Linked DNA regions of Homo sapiens: region 2 is linked to region 1. Evidence: fine-mapped expression QTL. A gene starts in region 1. The other region holds a variant in brackets. All regions are shown on one strand. Distances are between the middles of the regions.

Region 1 (5,379 bases):
TGTGCCATCCTCATGTACCATGAAAGCAATCTGAGTGCACACCCACTGTCTGTGTTATTAGGATAAGTTTTCTTTTCCATCTTGATTCACCTCACAAATCACCAAATATTCTGTGTCGTGGTAATTTCCTGTGTTCTTAAAAGTATTTACCTCCCACATTACCGAAAAATTTAAAAGACCAGAGTTGACCAGAAAGGCCTAGCCACTTCACAAAAACTTCCCTTTTATGAATGCTTGTGGTTAGTCACATAAGAAATATGTTGAATTCTCTTCATGTGTCAAATTATGTGGGAGGCACTAAGAAAAAGCAAAAACACAATAGCCCTACATCGGGATCACACTCTCACCTCTCTCATTCATGGTATCTGCTCTGGAGAAGTTTATAATCTATTCAAAGCTAAAAAAAAAAACAAAAAACAAACAAACAAAAAAAACCCGGCCGGGCGCGGTGGCTCATGCCTGTAATCCCAGCACTTTGGGAGGCCAAGGCGGGCAGATCACGAGGTCAAGAGTTCGAGACCAGCCTGATCAACATGGTGAAACCCCGTCTCTACTAAAAATACAGAAATTAGCCAGGCATGATGGCAGGCGCCCATAATCCCAGCTACTCAGGAGGCGGAGGCAGGAGAATCACTTGAACCCAGGAGGTGGAGGTTGCAGTGAGCTGAGATTGTGCCATTGCACTCCAGCCTGGGCAACAAGAGCAAGACTCTGTCTAAAAAAATAAAAATAAATAATTAAATAAATAAATAAAGCAGAAACCACCTAAAATGGAGACTAACGTGAAAGTATATAGTTAAGAGCTACATTGATGGGTTGAAATATATATTATAGGAATTGAGGGCTGAGCAATCATTGACTGGATTGGACCTTTCAGAGAAGGTTCTAGAGAACGAAGGAAAGCTTCATAGAGAAGTGGACACAAGACCCAGTCTTAAAGGATGAGGGACGGTACTGCAGGCACAAGAAATTCACTCAACTGATGATGATTCAGCATCAGTTTGGTCACCATTATCGAAGCGTTTTGAATGTGTAGCTGCGACCTAAATAACTTCCCAGAGGTAAATGCATCCTGTAGGTTTACAACAAGCAGTATTATTAAAGTAGTCTATATAAAGAAGCTACTCCAGAAAGAAATTCAAACCCACACATGATTAAGCAAGAAGGATGAATCATACTCAAAATGGAGGAAATAACTATGCAAGACTTAAATAACTACTTGTGCTTAGTTTAAAAGCTGTTTTTTTAAAATCTCTCCCTTTAAAAGCTTTTCTTTACTCCCCAAATCCAATAAAATAATTCTATTTAACTTTATCAGTACAAAACTTACTGCCAAAGAAAATAATCACAATATTTATGTTGCTGTATTAGTTATTGCAAAATTGATAAAAGAAGATGGAACAGATAATGTGCTCTTATTAATACACATGGAATCACTAATCCTGTAACAGTTTTATCAAGGAGGTGTGATTAATGCCATTTTGAGGTGGCACAAGTAAGGGTCAAAACTGACAATAAGCCAAGTTCCTAAGCTCCCGCAGCTTGTAAGTGGCATTGCTACTGGGGTTTGAAGTCTGGTCTGTCTGGCTCCATAATACCACCAAGACCTGCCATAAGGAAACTAAATAGGTGGAGCACAGTGGCTCACGCCTGTAATCCAAGCACTTTGGGAGGCCGAGGTGGGCGGATCACAAGGTCAAGAGATCGAGACCATCCTGGCTAACATGGTGAAACCCCATCTCTACTAAAAATACAAAAAATTAGCCAGGTGTGGTGGTACGCCCCTGTAATCCCAGCGCTTTGGGAGGCCGAGGTGGGCGGATCACGAGATCAGGAGATCGAGACCATATTGGCTAACACGGTGAAACCCCATCTCTACTAAAAATACAAAAAATTAGCCGGGCGTGGTGCCACGTGCCTGTAGTCCCAGCTATTCGGGAGGCTGAGGCAGGAGAATCGCTTGAACCCAGGAGGTGGAGGTTGCAGTGAGCTAAGATCATGCCACTGCACTCCAGCCTGGGCGACAGAGGGACTCCGTCTCAAAAAAAAGAAACTAAATGAAAACAGGTTAAGTAGAAGAAGGAAGCCAGTCTATGATGGTCGACAAATGAACAATACACTCACACATAATAATCTGCGAGGTATACAAATAGATTCCATCTACTATCAATCTAGGGCACATCACTTCCAGCAAATCTTGCTTTTAATTTTAACAGCACTTGCATTATTCACAATACTTAATTTGACCTTTCAGTTTTCTATTTTTACACTGATTTTTACATGAAACTTACACATTAGCGAGAGAAGCACTTTAAATCAATCCCAAACAAAACACAAAATGAAAGTCTCTGAGTCAGGAAAGATTGGGAGGCAAAAGTTTGACCTTGTGAGTTGCATCCATTAGGAGCACTAGCAATCTTTGCCAGCCAGCAGCCAGTAGGCAGAGGGGTGGGAAGTAAACGCCAGGATAACGAGGCAAGACCGCCTCCCAATTCTCTTGAGTTACGCTTCTATTTTATTTTGTTTGAATTTTTTTGGTAGAGATGGGGTCTTGCTACGTTACCAGGGCTGGTCTTGAACTCCTGACCTCAAGTGATCTTCCTACTTCAGCCTCCTAAAGCACCGGGATAACAGGCATGAGCCACCATGGCACCTAGTCTTGCTGGAATTTTTGAGATCAAATCTGCCATGTGTAAATCTAAGTCTTTATAAGAAGCATATTTCAAAGCCAAATACTAGTAATGTTTATATCAGCCGCTATTTTACATTGCTCAGGCAGTGTTCTCTTTCACTAATGCTATTAGCTGAACATTGGTTCAATTGCTTAGAATGGAAACAATTATATGTAATATTTCATAGTTATTGCTCTTGACATATATCAAAAGAGAAGTGACACTGGATGTGACAATTCAAATAAATTCCAATATGGAACACAACTTTTGCCCCCAATTTTTCCTGTGTTTTCAAATAGAGATGCTAAGCTTTATTTCTCATACTACTTATTTGTTGGGTCCTGCTCACAGGACTGGAGGAGTGAGGTCAGTATGATATGGAGTGCTGGGAAGGGAAAAGCGTGGTCCCTTTAAATGATGCGGAATGGAGGAAGGGAAGTGCTGGGTAGAGAAAGGCGGGTCCCTGGCTAAGGCTCCTCCCCGACGAACCCCATTCCTGCTTTCCCGCTCAAATGTTGCATTTTCTAAGACCTCCCTGGCCCGCCATACGCCGATCCTGAACCTACGAAAACCCAAGACTGCGGGCACGGTGGCTCATGCCTGTAATCCCAGCACTTTGGGAGGCCGAGGCGGGCAGATCACGAGGTCAAGAAGTCGAGACCAGCCTTGCTAACATGGCGAAACCCTGACTCTACTGAAAATACAAAAATTAGCTGGGCGTGATGGCGTGCGCGCCTGTAGTCCCAGCTGCTCGGGAGGCTGAGGTAGGAGAATCGCTTCAATCCGGGAGGTGGAGGTTGCGGTAAGCAGAGATTGCGCCACTGCACTCTAGCCTGGCGACAGAGACTCCTTCAAAAACAACAACAACAACAACAACAACAACAAAACAAAACCTCCCAAGACCCTAGTGGGCAGACACACAGCCAGCCAGACATGGAGAGGAGCACATTAGCAGAAGAAGACGCAAGTGGCTGGTCCTCGAGAGGACGTTGAGAGGAGCATGCCAGCAGAAGAGCACACAACGACAGGCACCGACACACCACCGGCAGGCCATGCACCAGCAGAATGATGCGGAGTTTGACGGGGCAGTCAGAGAAGAGCCTGGGCCGCCAAGGGGCCCGACTCCAGGGGAAAACCATCTCCCTTCTGGCTCCCCCATCTGCTGAGAGCTACTTCTACTCAATAAAACCTTGCACTCATTCTCCAAGCCCACGTGTAATCCGATTCTTCAGGTAAGCCAGGGCAAGAAACCCCAGGATACAGAAATCCTTCTGTCCTTGTGATAAGAAAGGGGGTGTAATTGAGCTAACACAAACCGCCTATAGATGGCAACCTAAAAGAGCATCCTGTAACACACGCCCGCCCACTGGGGCTTCAGGAGCTGTAAATATTCACCCCTAGACACTGCTGTGCGATCGGAGCCCCACAGCCTGCCCGCCTGTATGCTCCCCTAGAGGTCTGAGCAGCAGGGCACTGAAGAATCGAGCCACACCTCATCACACACCCTGCGAGGGGGACAAGGGAGCTTTTCCCATATCAAGTAGATTGCCCTGGTGCTGCAGAAGCAGGAAAAACAGGACCTGCCCATACCCAAGAGCCCGGCAACTCTGGCTAGAGTGAGGCCTGAAATTGTGTCCGGAATTGGTGGGTTCTTGGTCTCACTGGCTTCCTCTCAAAATCACGCTCAAGAGACGCCACAGTTAGAGGTAATGGCACCTCTTTTTTTTTTTTAATTTTTAATTATTTATTTTTTGTGAACTGGGGTCTGGCTCTGTCACCCAGGCTGGAGTACAGTGGTGTGATCATAGCTCACTGCAATCTCGAACTTCTGGGCTCAAGTAATTCTCCTGTCTCAGCGCCTGAAGTTGCTGGGATTATAGGCAGGAGCCGCTGCTACTGGGTTTACTTTTTAAATTGTGGTAAAATACACATAACATAAAATTTACCATCCTAATCACTTTTAAGTATACAGTTCAGAGGTATTAAATACACTTAAAATGTTGTGCAACCAGCACCGCCACCCACTTCTGTAATTCTTTTCATCTTGCTGTTAAAATTATGAGAGGCCATTGTTTTGGACCTAGGCCAAATCAGATCAGACCTCTTTCTGCACTAGGCCCCAACAGACCAGACCAAATCAAAATGGAGTCACTCATGCTAAATGAGACATAATCAAAATGAAACTAAGGAAGCTGCAAAGCTTTGCTGCCATTTTTAGATTACTACTTTCCTGATTCAGCATTTTCTTGGTTACAACAAAAACAGACCAGTTTTTTTTTCTCACCTGAAAACAGGAGATTCCAGCATAAAGAGGTCCCTTCTGTTCTAACCCTTACCAAAAAAAACAAAACAAAACAAAAAAAAAACAAACCTGAAGTCCTGGTTCTCACATTTAAAAACTCACTGTTTTGCTATTTCCCACTGAGATTTGAGACCAAATAAGTACACTGACAATGGTGACAGAGTGACATCAATGTCTAAAGTTTTGGCCAATCAAAACTGAGAGGTTGACCAAAAGGGGGCAATTGTTAAATTAAGTTTTGCCTAAAGCTGCCTCCTTACATATTTTAAGTTTGGTCTAAATGTTTCTCCATACACAGTGAACTGTAACCTGACTGGAGGTGTAAACAGACTGTAACCTACTCTTGTGCCAATCATCCAGTTTTGGCCAATCACAGGTAGCCAACTGATCGAATGTGTTCAACAC
Region 2 (5,379 bases), 390 kb before region 1:
CGCCTTCAAGTCACTTCCCAGGTAATCCCTGTTCCCATTCCCTCCCCCAGTAACTGTTCCATTTTTTTCTTCTTCCAGACATGCGGTTTTGCCTGTTCTGACTTCCTGTAAATGGAATTTTATAGCACATGCTCTTCACTATATATTTCAAGAGGCTTAGCTCTTTGATAGGGGAGAAGCTTTGAGGCACCCCGAAGAAAGCAAACAGCAACCATATTTATGTCCCACCACAGGGGTAATTATTGGAAACCCATTTAGAGGAGTTCAAATGGGCCTTGAAGTTTGGTTCCTGCCCATGCCCATCTTAATGGCTTGCTTTCGCCAAGAGTATATACTGACAGCCAGTGAGGCGTGCCTGGTAGGGACAGTGTTGTCTGCAATGGCAGCCAGTGTGTCCCTGTGTTGGCGGGTGGTCCCACCTGGGACCTCAGCAAGGCCCTCTCCACTGGAGAAACTCTGGTGCTTCCAAGAAACCATCCTGGGAACACCAGAGAGTATCTTCATGTATTTACCTCCAAATCTGCCTCAGTACTTTTTCTTTGATATGGAGGCCCAATTTTAGCATCCTGTAATGGCCGCCTTGAACCCCTCCAAGGTCATGGAATTTTTTTCTTATCTCGATGGACCAGTATTTTTGTAAGGGCCCCCTGTTTAGGGTAAGTGATCAGACAGGGCATTTCTCCTAGCATCTAGATCATTCTAGACCTAGATACTACCTATTCCTTGGGTAGCATTAAGGTATTTTGAAGTTCCACCTTGATAGGAATCCCCACTGAAGTTAGACAGCCTCATTGTTTCCAGAGCACCCAGACTTTATAAATGACCCCAAGACTAATCTGTCTGAGCATGCTAACTCTCTTCTCTCCAGCTGGCTGGCAGGCTCCAGTGAGAGCAATCGCTTCTGCCATCTGGGCTATAACGATGCATATTCTAGGGGTGATTTGAGATCTGTTATGGCAAAGTCAGACTGATCATATCCTGCCTCTGTCTGCAGATCTGACCCATCAACAATCAGGGTCAATTATGGACTCTCCAAAAGTATTTCTATTACATCTGCATGGGGCTTGGACAAATGCCAGTTTGGCATTTTTTCTTTTGAGATGGAAGGAGCATGGCAGAGTTCAAATAACCACAGTGATTGACAGACATATGTATAGGGAAAAGAACAATATTTCTTTTTTCTGTCGCCCAGGCTGCAGTGCAGTGGCGCAATCTCAGCTCACTGCAACTTCGCACTCCCAGGTTCAAGTGATTCTCAAGCCTCAGCCCAGGACTGAGCTGGGACTACAGATGTCCACCACCAAGTCTGGCTAATTTTTTTATTTTCAGTAGAGACAAGGTTTTGCCGTGTTGGCCAGGCTGGTCTCGAGCTCCTGACCTCAAGTAATCCATCCAATCCCAGCACCTCCCAAAGTGCTGGGATTACAGATGTGAGCCCCCATACCCGGGCATTATTGCATTAGTTGTTCTTTCTTCTCCTTCTTCTTTTCTTTTTTTCTTCTTCTTCTTCCTCTTCCTCTTCTTTCTCTCTCTTTTCTTTTTCTTTCTTTCTTTCTTTCTTTCTTTATTTCTTTCTCCTTCCTTCCTTCCTCCTTTCCTTTCCTTTCCTTTTCTTTCTTTCTTTCTTTCCTTTCAATGCAGTCAAGTTTCCTGTATCTGGGGAAATTTCAAGGGTCAGCACATCTGGAGTGCAATGGATAAGCCTCATCCTGGGAAAACCACCTTCATGATCATGGAATCTTCCTGGTCAGGTAAGTATATTGTAACAATATTTCATAGGATGCAAGGTGGCTCAGCTAGAAATGTTGTCCATTTGATTAAGTAGCAGTGATTATACAACTTGGGAGACCATTGGGTTCATGAGATCCCAAAACTAAGTAAGCAGAAGCCTCCCCGAGTTGACAATGACTGCCATTGCCTTGAGACAAGGTAGATAGGCCTTTGCCAGTAGAGTAGGGAGCAGGGACATTACAGTAAACCATGGGTGGTTTTGTTTTTGTTTTTGTTTTGTTGGTTTTGGGACTTTTTTTGGGACAGATTCTCACTCTGTCACCCAGGCTGGCTGGAGTGCAGTGGTGCAATCTCAGCTCACTGCAGCCTCTGCCTCCTGGGTTCAAGTGAGTCTCATGCCTCAGTCTCCCGAGTAGCTGGGATTACAGGCACCTGCCACCACACCCGGCTAATTTTTGTATTTTTAGTAGAGACGGGTTTTCACCATGTTGGCCAGGCTGGAACCCATGGGTGGTTTTCTTGTCATTGAGTTAAAACCTCAAGGACCTGAGCAGATCATCTATGAACCTGGAGAAATGTTTATGGTAAGTTAGAGCAGTCAAGGATGGGGTTTGTTGAAGAGCTAGCTCTAGCGTGTAAAATGTCTGTTCATGCTGTGTTCCCAGGAGAGGCAAGTCTGTCACCAAGAATTTAGTCGGGTCCTAAAGAAGAAGTAATTGCAGAGAAGTTGGGAGCTCCCTGTCCACAATCCCTCATGAGACGTAGCAATTAGTTTTCAGTGGTGAGTTTAGGGCAGTTCTGAGTGGAA[G/C]TTCAGTCAATCAGAGGGAAGAGACTTGCCTGAGACAGATCATGATCTAGATAATGAACCTTTTTTCTGAAAAAACTTCAAGTTTTTTGAGCACCTGTGTCCTTTTGTGCAAAAATAGAAGGTAGAAAGAATTCATTTTTAGTGCTTTTCTAATCTTCAGAGATTAGCAAAAGCTCATCCTATAGAAGAACTTTAAGGTCCTTGAGATTCTGATTAAGAGCTTATTTCATTTTATTTATTTATTTATTTATTTATTTATTTATATTTATTTATTGAGACAGGGTTTCACTCCATCATCCAGGCTGGAGGACAGTGGTGTGATCTCAGCTCACTGCAGCCTTGACTTCCCAGTTTCAAGCAATCCTCCCATCTCAGCCACCCGAGTAGCTGGGACTACAGGTGTGTGTCACCACACCCAACTAATTTTTTGTATTTTTTGTAGAAACGAGGTTTCACCATGTTGCCCAGGCTGGTCTCAAACTCCTGGCCTCAAGAGATTTGTCCGCCTCAGCCTCTTAAAGTGCTGGGATTACAGGGGTGAGCCATCACCACGCCTGGCCTAAGAACTTATAAAAAGTAAGGAACCACAGTGAATCTCTGAGGCATAACAATCCACATGTACTGTGGGTTCTCCTAAGGACAGGAGAACAGGCATTGATTTAAGAGAACAAGTTCGCTGGGCGCCAGTGGCTCACGCCTGTAATCCCAGCACTTTGGGAGGCCGAGGTGGGCGGATCACGAGGTCAAGAGCTCCAGACCATCCTGGCCAACATTGTGAAACCCCGTCTCTATTAAAAATACAAAAAAAAAAATCAGCTGGGCATGGTGGCACACACCTGTAGTCCCAGCTACTCGGGAGGCTGAGGCAGGAGAATAGCTTGAACCCAGGAGGCAGAGGTTGCAGTGAGCTGGGATCGTGCCACTGCACTCCAGCCTGGGCGACAGTGTGAGACTCTGTCTCGAAAAAAAAAAAAAAAAAGAAAAAAAGACAGAGAACAGGTTCTAAAGAAGGAAGAACATAGATGCACAACTGTGAAATAGATGGCCTTGGGCGGGACTGGGGGAAAGAACAAAGTCCAGTATTTGGACTTGGCACTGCTGGAATGTGGGGAATAATTATCTTAACGATATCCCTAAGATCATGAATAAATCTGCGCACTCATGCGTTGAGTTACCTAATACTCAGGATAGGAGCGTGAGAAGGTTTGGTCCAAGGAATAATGAGTCTTTTGCCTATTAGTCCTTCTACTATGGGCCTTAATTTTTTTCTTCTGGCTTCAAGGGAATTGTACAAGGCTGGGTGAAGGTTGGGACCTGGTCAGTCTGAACCTTGATGTGCTCAGCCCCAGTAATCCTAAAATGGTGATACATTTTTGGCTCATTAGGACTTGGTACCTCACAAAGATCTTCAAATTGTGTCTGGTTTATGTATCTGTATCCAAATTAGCTATGATTTGATTATGAATAGAGACACCCTCATGAGTTTCAAGGAAGAGCTCCCTTCTAGGAAAATTTAATCTGGTGATTCCATTTTCATAATAAAGACTCCTCATTAAGTTTATGCTGGTGTGATGTCACAAGAGAAGGGTGTTTTTAGTAAAAAGACCAAGAATAACAGTGGCCAGGATACAGGGAGTGGCCAGGCAGATGGAGACATCCACCTCTTGGTTTTTGCTGACTCCAAGGACAAGAAGTGAACTTAGTGGCAGGGTTGTTGTTGAAAATGTTGCACCCCTAACCCTGAGTGTGGCCCAGAAGAGTTAATGATATCTTCTTGCAAGTTTTAAGGGAAGACTCAGAAGTGGATGCCATCTTCTCTCTTGGAACTGTCTCATTATCTGTCAGATTCCTTTTTGCCCAAAGTGAGACAATTGGTTTTCCATCGTCTCTTTTGTTCAGAGTAGCAGCAAGTATTCTTATCACTGGGCATTTTGCTGGGGGGGATTGTGGAGGTTGTGAGGTCATCCAGTTGTTTAATTTGAAAAACCGTTAAGTTGTTTAGGATCTTACTCTACTTTTGTTCTAAGAGTTTCTCAGAAGATTTGGACACATGCTATAGGGCTGTTAGTGGAGTTATTTCTTATTCTAGCCTTTAAGTACCAAACCCCTGAATTTTGGCTAAAGGCCGTTCATAAGCAATGAGGATAATGTAGCAAAACATCTGCCTATTGATCTATCCCAGACTGTTGTCTGAAGGTGATTTCTAAAACCTTTTCTTTTTTTTGAGACGTAGTCTCCCTCTGTCACCCAGGCTGGAGTGCAGTGGTGCAATCTCACCTCACTGCAACCTCCGCCTGCCGGGTTCAAGAAATTCTCCCACCTCAGCCTCCTGAGTAGCTGGGTAATAGGCACCCAACACCCTGAATACAGTTGGGGTTTCACCATGTTGGCCAGGCTGGTCTTGAACTTCTGACCTCAAGTGATCCGCCCGCCTTGGCTTCCCAAAGTGCTGGGATTACAGGTGTGAGCCATCATGCCCAGCAATTTCTAAAATTTTTAATGAATTTGCTTTAAAAAAAAAATAAAAAACAAACACAAAAAAACTGGATTAATGACCAGAGAATCTCTACTCAAAATAAAGTAGGTATTGCCTTCAGTAAGGATTGCACTACATTTTGTGCTTCTTAAAAGTCCCTTTCTGTTTGCTGGTCCTCAGGAATACATAGATTATTTCCCAGGTCCTTCCAGTGGACTCTTTAAGGTAGGGTTAGCATCTAGATACATGTACTAGGTGATGTACATCAGGGAGATTGGGACCATTGCTTCCAAGCACTATTCTAGATTCTCAGGTTCTTCATATCGGTCATAAAAGGCTGACAATTAAATATTAAACATTTGCT

Which allele goes with the higher level. Positions count from the first base shown, and alleles are read on the strand shown. Sizes are in standard deviations (SD) of each study's normalised expression.
In carriers of allele G in region 2, the expression in sigmoid colon of the gene that starts at base 3,193 in region 1 tends to be lower than with C alone (small effect, 0.37 SD a copy in GTEx).

Evidence for each region. PIP is the estimated chance that this variant, and not a neighbour inherited with it, causes the effect.
Region 2: its variant is the best candidate, but not a certain one, in a credible set for the expression of LINC03020 in sigmoid colon (GTEx, PIP 0.73).

What each region holds. Positions count from the first base shown.
Region 1 is chr8:70,467,942-70,473,320 of GRCh38, forward strand. It overlaps LINC03020 (long intergenic non-protein coding RNA 3020), which reads left to right and starts at 3,193. Exons shown (of 4, transcript NR_110653.1): 1 at 3,193-3,904.
Region 2 is chr8:70,076,274-70,081,652 of GRCh38, forward strand. It overlaps the pseudogene RNU1-101P. Among named protein-coding and RNA genes, the nearest start is that of PRDM14, 7.7 kb to the left of the region's middle. The variant G/C (reference allele first, on the strand shown) is at 2,540.